Regions from separate parts of the Homo sapiens genome. Here region 2 is linked to region 1. The links come from fine-mapping of genetic effects on gene expression. Tissue or cell type: blood mononuclear cells. Region 1 holds a variant in brackets; the other region holds the start of a gene. All regions are shown on one strand. Distances are from middle to middle.

Region 1 (6,446 bases):
CAGATCTCCTGATTTCCGGTTCAATCTTCTTTCTTCTCTACTCAGAAGGTACTAGGATCTGAATGATAAACAATGCTCACATGGAGAGGCATCAGGTAAAACTGCAATTGATTAATATGCCATACATGATGAACCTACTTAGGGTAGAGCTTCTATTGATTTTTAATTCAATAGTAAACAGGTACTGAAAAGGCTGGGAGCAGGTCAGCGGTTCAGACAACGGTCCACTTGCTGACTAGATCACTAACTAAATGTGCTCTATATAAAACACACCAAAGTATCAAATGGAAAACAGTGCTTGCAAATAATTTCATAACCAATACTATGCAGGTGTCTTAACTGAGAAGCAAAGGTGATGTTTGCTTGGATTTTATTTGAAAACCCGATTTGATTCATGATCTACTTCTCCTTAGGTATGGACCCCAGTGTAATGACATAATTGGCTCAGCCTTTAAGATTTAAAGCCTCTGTTCCCAAGCTGCAGTGGCTGGAGCAATAGGAAATGAGAAACAAGGCAATCTCACATTGAAGTGGCTACTTAAGGATCCCTAAGGTGTAGTCATGATTTCCAGCCATGCAGTTGTTTGGAATTAGAAATCCTGATTCCTACTGTAAACTGAACATTGCAAAGCTGGTAGGATTAATTCAATGGAAGAAACTTGGTTTCTTGCTTGGAGGCATGTGGATGAATAAGAACTCTTGTGCATTGCTGGCAGGAATGTGAGTCAGTACAATCACTTTTGGACAGGGACATGGCATCTTCATAGACTTGAAGATATGTAGCAACTCTACTCCTATGTATCTGCCCTAAAGACACTCTTACACATGTTCACAAGAATTCTCACTGCAAAGATGTTGGTAGAAGCAAAATTTTGGAAGATGTCATTTAAGAAATACGTTGTGGTGTAGCAATTAAAACTAAAGCTATCAGGCAAATGATAAAATAGAGCAGGGGTGGCCATACTCATGTCAGAAAAAAATGCTTTACCGCCAGGCACAATGGCTCACACCTGTAATTCCAGCACATTGGGAGGCTGAGGAAGATTGCTTGAGCCCAGGGGTTCAAGACCAGCCTGGGTGACATGGGGGAGACCCTGTCTCTATAAACAAATTTTAAAAGTACTATAAAAAATGTAAAAACTAGCTGGGCATGTTGATTCATGCCTGTGGCTCCAGCTACTCAGGAGGCTGAGGCAGGATTGCCTGAGCCTGGGAAGTCAAGGTTGCAGTGAGCTATGATCATGTCACTGTACTGCAGCCTGGGCCAGAGAGTAAGACCCTGTCTCAAAGGAAAAAAACAGTCAAAAACTGTGACAAGAGACAGAGTAGAGAACCCAGAAATAAATTCTCATCTATATGGTCAAATGATCTTTAACAAAGGTGCCAGCTACTCCTAGGTACTCAAGAGGTTGAGGTGGGAGGATCACTTGAGCCTAGGTTCAAGGTTGCAGTGAGCTGTGATCACACCACTGCACTTCAGCCTGGGTGGCAGAGAAAGAAAGACTTTGCCTCTTGGAGTATTTCATCTTCATTACCCTATAAAGATACTTTGATTGCAAGTGGAGACAAAGTAATTGGCACATAAAATTTTTATTGGAAATTGACTTTACAACTTAGTACTCAGCCTGGGTCACCCTAAAGCAAGCATATTTTATATAAGGGGTTTCAGTTTTACTTTCTTCTTCCTTTGATGACTATGTTTGGACTTTTTAATGCCAACAAGTCAGATCATTGTGTAGATGGCCACTAAACTGCCAAGGTGACAGTTTAACGAATGTGGATTAAGTCCAGGAGCCAAGTTTCCCAGTAAGAAAAATCCTAGGTCTCCTTCAGGGAAGACAGCATTTTAGAGTCAAAGCTAATTATTCTCAAAATCAACATACGTTTGCAAAAAATTGGTTATAATGGAGGATCAGGGACCAATGTCTGCTGCCCGTTGCTTCCTTTACATCCTGTCTGATGCTCTCATGACACTCAAAGCCTCTGCACTTGTCACCCCACCCAGCTCCAACTAAAAGTGTCCCATTTTTTTTTTCCCCACAAATCAATTCTCATGACTGCACTTCAGAGCTTGTCCTCTTAAGGTAATTTGAGTATGTTTAAATTAATAACGTGACAGTATTCAACCAGAAAATAAATAAATGAATATATATACACACACACACACACACACACACACACACGTGTATATATATGGCTTTGTGAATCCAGATGAAGTCAGTTGTTGAGAAGGTAGGTGGGCAGATATTAATAGAATTGGTGTTGTACAAAACAAGGATGAAAGAAAAGTGAGGTGAAGAGGATGGAGTTGTTGAGAAGGTAGGTGGGCAGATATTAATAGAATTGGTGTTGTACAAAACAAGGATGAAAGAAAAGTGAGGTGAAGAGGATGGTTTTGTAGCTGGATAGGTAAAAGGGTAAGTTCTTACGCAAAGATGTATTACAGAGCAAATCTCAAGTTTTCTGACTGCACAGTTCAAAGTTTCAACTACACATTTTACCTAACAGTTTTGAAATATTATAAAGCTTTATTCCATTCTAATATGTGATGGTTTAAGTCAAAAGACTTGAACCTTCTCAGCCTTTCAGACTAGCAATTTATGGCCATAATTCAAAGTGATTCTGGTAGTAATTTTCATTCTAGCAGAAAATTTTCATTAACCCAAGAGTGAAACAGGAGCTGTATTTGCTGGCCATGTTTTATTTGTCCTTTTTCTTCAAACAGGATAACCAAAGATACAGACAGTATTCAATAAAATAAAATAGATGAAACAAATTCTAAGAGACTGCGATGCCACATGCTACGTTTAACCTAATTTTATTCATGCTTGCCTTGGGATGGGGAATAGATCATTCAGTAAAAACATACAGTAAAAACAAAATGTCTTATCATGTACAACTTTCAAACTACAATAATGATGTACCTTAATTACTTCCATGCACACAAGTCTAACATTTGTTTTTTTAAAAAATAAACACAATTAAGACTTCTAGGAGCATTTTATAATAAAGTAATTCCTAATTAATTTTTCTTTGTAGATAGATCAAGCACCTCCAAAATACAAATTCCTATACACAGTGAGCACGTTACTTAAAATGAACACTTAAGTAAATTAAGTACGTGGACAGCCTTAGGATAAGCTGACATTATAGATGCAGCTAGGTAGGCAACAAACCATAGTGCCAAATGGAAAAAGTA[AAGTAT/T]ATTTGCAAATAAATTTTAAAAACTAAGTTAATTTTTTATAATTAAATACAGAAAATATACTGATTTGCTAAAATAAATAAGATGTGATGTATTAACACTTCACTATAAAGAATGCATACCAGAACATTTATAAACAGTGAGTGAGTTTTATTAAGAATAGTTTACTACAATAAACGCTGGCTAAATAGAAGTGCATTTTGTGAAGCACTATGGGTGGTATATGTTTTGCCACATACTCTTGTTACCTTGAGGTAGATAACACATGTGTACCAAATTCGGCATTCATTTTCAGTTGCTGCTGGTATCATGTGTTTTAAGAAATGTGTACAGTATGAAAAACTTGAAAATATTCATGAATGAAAAATGTCTTAGGAAAAAAATAGCTATTTTCATGCAATTATGTACAGTCTCACTGTGTAAATTTCAAGGCAAGGTTTGTTTCCTGTAAAACAGATCAATGTTCTATGAGAGAATGTTCTTGTCTTAGTGCATTTCTTTTCTCCTCCTGCGTTGCATTATTTTGCTCTAGTCTTTATTTTTGTGTGCAAATGACATGCCAGTTAAAATGAAAACTATCTCACATGTAGAAAAAGAAAGTCTGGATTTTAAAAAACAAGAACTCATAAAATCCTTACTAAATGACACCATCTGATTCAAGTAAAAAATGACTTAAACACTAGTAATAAAAAAAGACAAAACACATTTCATGAAGAATACAAAGATAAATGTCTGCTGAGTGTTTTAGTTCAGATGTTTCAGAATGCTGCTGTATGTTTGATGAGGAATTTGAGGGGAAGATTTCATAGCAGAAGGTGTTAATGTGGCCTGTATTGACTTAAGTGGTGACCCAACTGGACTGTGAAACTGTGGGATGCCTATGGACTCGAGCTGCTTGTTAAAGAGGAACTCCCCACTGTTGTTCAGAAATCCTTCCTCATGTCCTCTCTCCCCAAGCTTCCCATCCTCTACTGGCTCAGTTTCTAGCATTTCAGTATCTTCTTTCCTGCTAAAGAACTTGTCCAAGTAACTAGTGTAAGTGTTTTCCTTCTCAACTTGTTCATCCTTCCTTACCTCACAAAACTGATTTATGAAAAAACAGTCCTCCCCACCACTCACAAACTGGCTGTCCCAAGAAGACTGGTACAAGGCTTCTAATTGAGCCAGATTTGCCATTCCTTTTTCCTGTTTTTCTTGGCTTACTGACTTTGATATCAAACTTTTCAATTCTAGTTGGGACACTGAGCTATTCAAGTCATTTAATTTATCAACAACATCAGTAGGCTCATGCTGGGAACTAAGCTGAATAGTTCCTGCAATAAAGGAATCAAAATCAAATCCCTGATTCTTTTCCCTTTCTTTTCCAGCCAGTTGCTGTGATGCTTCCTCTAGCGCTATCTGGGCTTTAACCAATCCATTCCTTTCACATTTTGATTTGCCTTTCTTATCAGATTTTTCTTTGCTTTGTTCTTTCCAATTGGAAAGATCTATAATAAGCTTGGGTTCATAGTAATGGTTAACTTCACTCTCTCTCCAAACTAAGTTATCTAAATATGATGATGACCTCGTTTTGTAGTTACAAGTATGGCTACACTCCAGATCACAATATTTGTTTTCATGATGATCTGAGTATTGCCAACAAGGCTCAGTAGAGTAATTGGTATCAAAAGCAGGATCCTCCAGATACTTTTCCCGATCTCCATCCAAATATTTTCGGGGATCAACTTGTACTTCTTCTTCATCAGTGACATCGGACAGAGCTCTTGGATCAAGCTGAACTTCATCAATATCAAAGTTGTTATGTACAGGCCAATCATGCTCTGAAAACTGACAATCATGATACCTGAAAAAAATCAATACACTAGCGTTATTCTACGTATATGATTTCATTTTCAAATTCACCGAGTACCTTCTATGTGACAGCACTGTGCTAGGTCTATGAGGGGATAATTATAGGAGAGTAAATATGCCTGCCTTGCCCTACCAGAACTTAGTCTTGATAGGAAAGCTCTGTTAATATATTTGGTAATTGCCAATGCAGTATGTAACTTCATTTCCAATTTGTTTTTTGTCCACCAGTTCCATGCAAACAAAAGACTTCATAGCCACAAAATGCAGATCTCAAATCTCAATCAGGTACCTTACAAATGTTTACTCTACAGTAAGGGCAACTAGAAGAGGAGGAGGTTTGCTAAATGTTTACTCTACAGTAAGGGCAACTAGAAGAGGAGGAGGTTTGCTGGAAAACTCATCACCATGAATAGCAAAAATCTCCCTGTGTATACGTGCTGCTGAATGCGCTATCCTATTACTGACATGTATAATCATTGAGGGAAAAGAAAAGAGATTAGATAACTTAGCTAGGTAAAATAGAAAATGCAGGTCAGGTGCAGTGGCTCAGGCCTGCAATGCTAGCACTTCAAGAAGGCCAAGGTGGATGGATCACTTGAGGTCAGGAGTTTGAAACCAGCCTGGCCAACATGGTGAAACCCCCACTACTAAAAATACAAAAATTAGCTGAACATGGTGGCGGGTGCCTATAGTCCCAGCTAGTAGGGAGGCTGAGGCAGGAGAACTGCTTGAACTCAGGAGGTTGCAGTGAGCAGAGAGATGGGCACCATTGCACTCCAGCCTGGCAACAGAGTGAGACTCCGTCTCAAAAAAGAAAAGAACCATTATTTAGGGGGTAGAAATGGACACATGGAGAAAAAAAGTAGTTTGCAGATTTGTGTAAACATACCATACCAATACATCAACATTTGAGGAGGGGGAAAAAAATTTCTTCTTAAAATCTTAAGATTAAAAAGATTGGCATTAGTGGTTCCCAAACTTGGCCATACATCAAAATCACCTGATGACTCTATAAGCTACCATCCTACTCTGAAGCATCAAAATCACCTGATGACTCTATAAGCTACCATCCTACTCTGAAGCAGAATTATATCTAAACTTCCCCAGAAATGTATTTATTTATTTATTTGAAACGGAGTCTTGCTCTGTCGCCCAGGCTGGAGTGCAGTGGTGCAATCTCGGCTCACTGCAACTGCTGCCTCCCAGGTTCAAGTGATTCTCCTGCCTCAGCCTCCTGAGTAGCTGGGACTACAAGAGCCCGCCATCAAGCCTGGCTTATGTTTGTATTTTTAGTAGAGACCGGGTTTCACCACGTTAGCCAGGCTGGTCTCGAACTCCTGACCACAGGTAATTGGCCTGCCTCAGCCTCGCAAAGTGCTGGGATTACAGGCAT
Region 2 (5,839 bases), 46 kb after region 1:
ACTCTGAATTATGCACTACAGCTAATTACCTATATTTGAAAACAATGCCGAAAATACGTTAAACCTCTAAGTAATGTGATGCTCTGAAAATTTTCAATACTTTTATATTTGTATTTTTATGTTTCCTCTAGTAGGAAATTTTTTTTAAGTTTGAATTAAACTTTGTAAAAAAAAAACCTCTAGGTATAAATCATGCAATACTCTTCCAAAATAGTTCCAAAAATTTAATTCACATTAACAATACATTTTATGGGCTGGGAGCAGGGGCTCACACCTGTAATCCCAACACTCTGGAAGGCTGAGGCAGGCAGATTGCTTGAGCCCAGGAGTTCAAGAACAGCCTGGGCAACACTGTGAACATTCATCTCTACAAAAAATACGAAAAACTAGCCAGGCATGGTCGCACACAGCTGTAGTCCCAGCTCCTCCGGAGGCTGAGGCAGGAAGATCACCTGAGCCCGGGAAGTAGAGGTTGCAGTGAACAGTGATCGCACCACTACACTCCAGCCAGGGTGACAGAGCAAGACCCTGTCTCACAAAAACAACAAACACTTTACTGTCCACAAACTCCTCAAATCCCTTTGGAAAAATAAACAGTATACACAGAAAAACCAGAGGATGGGGTGGGAAATTTTTTTTCTTTTATTTTAAAAATTGAGACAGGGTCTCGTTATGTTGCCCAGACTGGTCTTGAACTCCTGGCCTCAAGCGATCCTTCCACCTCAGGCTCCCAAAGTGCCGGGATTACAGGTGTGAGCCAACGCACCCAGCCCCACTCTTAAACTGCCATTCTCAATCTTTTTCCCCCTCTCAATCTTATTTTAAGCCACCTTGCTAAACGTTGGCTGTTTTAAAATCAGTCAAAAGATTTATCTTATTACCAAGTTTCAACTTAGAACTGTACATTCAGCTTATCTTTAAAAAAAAACCATGAAAAATAGTGACTAATACCTATTTCAAATTGTCTTTATTAAAACAGAAAATTCACATAAATCACAAAGCACAATATATAATTATGTTTTAATAATTCTGAGTGAAACTTTCATATTCAGAGCCATATCTGATTAAATATTAAATATAAAGATAACTTTCACATAACCAATAAAAACATAAGGTCAATTTCTACCGACACCATAAAAGTACTATCTGTCCTTTATAAACAACCTGTAACAAATCTCTCTCAGCAGTAGCCAAAAAACTGCTAGTATCAAACATTTAATTTCAGCACCTGACCAGAAATTGGTTTTACCTTTCCTCTCAGCAAATGTTACACAATTCCACCTGTAGGGTATATGATATCCTTTTAAAATGCAATTTAAGAAGCCATTACTTTTTTAGAGAAACTGCTGTTCCTCTTCAGAAAAAATGAGAGAGAATTTCAATGTGGACAGGAACATTTTAGCCTATCATTTAGAAAAAAATACAGTGTATTTAAAAAAAAAAAAAAAAAAAGCCACGTAGCAGTCCGTGGGCAGCATGAGTCATCATCCAACTCAAAACTTGCAGCAGCACTTGTAAGCTTCCTCCTACCCGACCCCCATCCCCTTCAGCAAAGTACCCTGAGTCAGCAAACCTTACTATTTTGTCAGTTATGATTCTCACGATGCTTTAAATGAATTTATGTAAAGCACTGCAACACTTTTAGTGCTAACATTAGTCTTTAGAATGTGTGCATTTTTTTATTACAAAATTAACTGACTTCAAATCACTCTTCTCTGGATTTTTTAATAACAGAAAGTAGCCAACGACTACTTCTAATCCTCTTTTGCAAATAAATGAATTCCAGAATATCCTCATATACGAAGTTTTTTCTAAAATAGTCTCCATTTTCCAGTGTTTTCTTCTCAACAGTAATACCTAGGTGATCAAATATGTTCTGCTCAAATCTGGCATATTTTCTAGATTAACTGCAATTACTGAATTCAGGACATCAATGAATAATTTTACAAGCTTAAGGCAATTCTTAATAAATGATGTAACATATGTGAAATGACTTTACAATCCCTGGCACATAGCAAACACTTCATAAACATGTTTGAACAACTACTATCTAAAGACAAAGTTCCTTTCACCCAATTCAAAATTATTTTTTAAACATTAAAATCTGATATTTCTATGAAGAAATTCCTGATTTCAGGGCCAGGCCCTGTTTGGACCCTACATTCTTCTGGTCAGATCATTCTTTCCATCTCAGTTTTCCAGCGTTAAAGAGGGAGGACATGTGCAATTGGAACTGTAAGAGACAGGCTAGAAGAATCAGCCATCAGAAAATTACTCTGAAGCTGCTTGCTCTTCATTGTATGGCGTGTTAATTTTTCCCCTTGACAAATCATCTGTATCCGTTAAAAAAAAAAAAGTCATTACTGAGACTGCATCTTTAGCAATGAACACGAATTCTGCCGTTAATACAAGTAGGCTTCTAATTCCAACTCACCAGTCCCTTTCACTGGACCTTTTCCAATGAACAAGCAAAAGAAAAAATAAAACAGGAAAGGAATCAAGAAGCTCCCGCTGCACAGAGATCCCCCTAACACCTAAACCGGTTGGGTCCTACACTCGCCAAGAAACAAAAGGATGCCAAAACACCTTTACTTTTCGACACAACTCACAAGGCGGACTAAAATGCACAGCAAAGTGACAAGGCCCTTTTTGGTGAACCGACAAAACAAGCTTTCATTTGGGCACTTTTACAGACCACCACTTAAGGTCCCGAAAGAAGCTAAGGAAAGACTGTAGGGCCGAGGGAGGAAATTAGGAATTTCGTCTCCGAGTTTTCAGTACCTCATTCATGGCAAGACTCAAAACTTGGGCGGACTTCAGGGCTCTGAGACGAGCCGGGTGAGCGCTGCGCGCTACGCCACTGGAGACTTTGCCCGGCCGGAGTCAGCTGAGGCCGAGTCACCGGGTGGGATGGGGGAGGAGACGCGGGAGCATTTCGAAAGGCAGCGTGCCAGTAAGGCGAGACTCCACGCCACCTCATGTTCCCCGGGCCGCCGCCCCTCGCTCGCCCGCCCTCCGGTCCGGTCCGGCTGGGTTTCGAACCCGCGGAGCCAGGCGCAGGCGGCGGGACGGCAGCAGGCGTGCGGGGCCAGGGAGCGGGCGCGGCCTGGCAGGGCGACCGGCGAGGGGCGTGCCGGGTGGGAGGGGCGCGCTGGCCGCCTGGCCGGCCCCACGCGGGGACCCCAGCCCGCCGCCCGCCCGCCCGCGCGGGGACGCGCCGGCCAGGCCCGAGCGGGCGGGCAGGCGGGCGAGCAGGGGGCGGGCGGCAGACCGAACAAAAACGCCTTTGTTGAGCGGCAGCCGCCGGAGGGTCACACACAATGGAGGAGGGAGCCGGCTCCGCCGTCGCCGCCGCCGCCGCCGCCGCCGGGCCCGCCGCGGCGCCCTCCCGAGCCGCCCCGCCGGCGCACCCCGCACACGTACACACACACACTCACGGGACTTCTCCGACTCATCGAGAGAGTGCGGGGCTCGCGGACTGCCCCCAGTGTCGGCTCAGGTCTCCGGCTGTGCTGGCGGCAGCGGCGTCTCCGAGGCTCTCGCTTTGCCGCAGTCGCCGCCATGTAACCCCGACCCGCGAGAGAGGGCGAGGAAGAGGGGGCGGGGCTTCGCGGTGCCACGCCCCCTCACGTCACAGGCTCACTCCACGGGTTCTCCCGCCCCCGCCCTGCCCAGCGCACCCGCACGCGCCGGAATTTCCAGCGCCCGTGACTGGGCTGCGCGCGCCGCGGAGGCGGTGGGAAAGGCACGCGGCTCGTCCGGCGTCTCCTGGGGGCTTTGCCTGCGGGCGGGCAGGGAGGAAGACAGCTGGGGCCGTTTGCTCTACTACCTGCCCTGGCATTAAGGGAACAAAGTGACCAAACCCAGTGCCAGCGTTTACTAAGCACCTACTACGTGCAAGGCACTGGGCAATCCGAGAGGAAGAGGCCTCAGTCTCCAGGAAGGGTGGACCTTAAGATGGATTGGCTGGAAGGCGACAGCCCGAGCACAAGACAGACGCGTTAGAGGCCAATACTAAGGTCATTCATTCTGCCAGAGTATGGAGGAAGGCTTTCAGGAGTGGTCGCCAAGGTGGCCTTTCAGCTGGATCCCGGAGGAGCGGATATAACCAGGAGGTGGGGAGGGTGTTTCTGTGAGCAAAGACTGGGAGGCCAGAGTACCTGGCTTGTTGCAGGAACTGGGATAGGACAATTTGAATTTGGGAAGGGATGCACTATGAAACGTAGAAAGGTGGATGGGTGCCTTCTTGGGCCCACTTGGCTAAAAGCAAACTTACATTACTTATCATGGCTTATTGAGTCCAAGGAGCCTTTTCAGTGTTTATGTGAAATTTAAGTATTTATGAAATTAGAGACGCAGGTCAGCATATTTTTTCAATGACTTCATCACCATCTTGCTGAGAACCAGACATAGAATAGCCCTTCTAGTCATTATTATGGGCATCTTCAAGAAAGAGGCAAAGACCACTTCAAAAAGATCACAAAGGGCCAGGCGTGGTGGTTCACGCCTGTAATCCTAGCACTTTGGGAGGCCGAGACGGGCAGATCACCTGAGGCCAGGAGTTCGAGACCAGCATGGCCAACATGGTGAAAGCCCCGTCTCCACTAAAAATACAAAAAGTAGCCGGGTGTGGTGGCTCACACCTGTAATCCCAGCTACTCGGGAGGCTGAGGCAGGAGAATAGCTTGAACCCCGCGGGGGGTTGCAGTGAGCCGAGATCGCGCCAGGACACTCCAGCCTGGGCGAAAGGGCGAAACTCTGTCTCAAAAAAAAAAATCACAGAGTAATGAAGTTAAGTGGTTGGGGTGAGCTTGAATGCTTTATATTTTTTAATATTTAAAACAACGTCAGCTGAGTACCAGGTGTGAAGAAGAGGTAATGAGTGAAAAAAACCAAGAGAAAGGGGAGACTTGTTCCAACCGCAGAATTTCCAGCTTCTGCAACGAGAGCTCGTACCTTCAGCCCCACTGCCTCTGCTCTAGGCTCTCCTCTGATCCTCAGGACATTTTTCCTCTCACTCTTTGAGAACTCGTTTACCTTCCTTTTCCATCAATGTCTGATCACCCAGAGAAGGTGGGAGAATAAATACCAAGCACTGTGCCTTCCCTCAAGGAGCATTTAATCCAGTGTCACTGCTGACTTCCTGTGGATAATGCAAAGTTGGCTTACAATAGTAAGGGAGACCACTAAATTGACAGAATCTTTGTAGCATTTCAAAAGGGTGTCAGGCCTCTGAGCCCAAGCTAAGCCATCGTATCCCCAGTGACCTGCACATATACATCCAGATGACCTGAAGCAACTGAAGATCCACAAAAAAAATGAAAATAGCCTTAACTGATGACATTCCATCATTGTGATTTATTTCTGCCCCAACCTAACTGATCAGTGTACTTTGTAATCTCCCCCACCCTTAAGAAGGTTCTTTATAATCTCCCCCATCCTTAAGAAGATTCCTTGTAACTCTCCCCACCCTTGAGAATGTACTTTGTGAGATCCACCCCCTGCCCCCAAACCATTGCTCTTAACTCCACTGCCTATCCCAAAACCTGTAAGAACTAATGATAATCCACCACCCTTTGCTGACTCCTTTTTCAGACTCAGCCCGCCTGCACCCAGGTGAAATAAACAGCCTTGTTTTTCACACAAAGCCTGTTTGGTGGTCTCTTCACACGGACACGTGAGACAAAGGGGAGGTCAAGGATGGAATAATTACAAGATTTGGGGGATCTGGTTTTTGTTTGTTTGTTTGTTTGTTTGTTTTTGAGACAGAGCCTCGGTCTGTCGCCAGGCTGGAGTGCAGAGTGGTGCAATCTTGGCTCACTGCAACCTCTGCTCACTG

Evidence for each region. PIP is the estimated chance that this variant, and not a neighbour inherited with it, causes the effect.
Region 2: MAPK6 starts here. The variant in region 1 is fine-mapped to the expression of MAPK6 in blood mononuclear cells (TOPMed, PIP above 0.99).

What each region holds. Positions count from the first base shown.
Region 1 is chr15:52,062,501-52,068,946 of GRCh38, reverse strand. MAPK6 (mitogen-activated protein kinase 6) reads right to left here. Exons shown (of 6, transcript NM_002748.4): 6 at 1,572-5,045. The coding sequence ends at 3,947. The region is part of intron 1 of LOC112268150 (a long non-coding RNA gene); the gene reads left to right. Among named protein-coding and RNA genes, the nearest start is that of MAPK6, 47 kb to the right of the region's middle. The variant AAGTAT/T (reference allele first, on the strand shown) is at 3,200.
Region 2 is chr15:52,016,975-52,022,813 of GRCh38, reverse strand. MAPK6 (mitogen-activated protein kinase 6) reads right to left here and starts at 3,595. Exons shown (of 6, transcript NM_002748.4): 1 at 3,438-3,595. It overlaps MAPK6-DT (MAPK6 divergent transcript), which reads left to right and starts at 3,719. Exons shown (of 2, transcript NR_156732.1): 1 at 3,719-4,115. RefSeq lists enhancers at 2,535-2,584, 3,925-3,994 and silencers at 2,835-3,344, 3,645-3,754.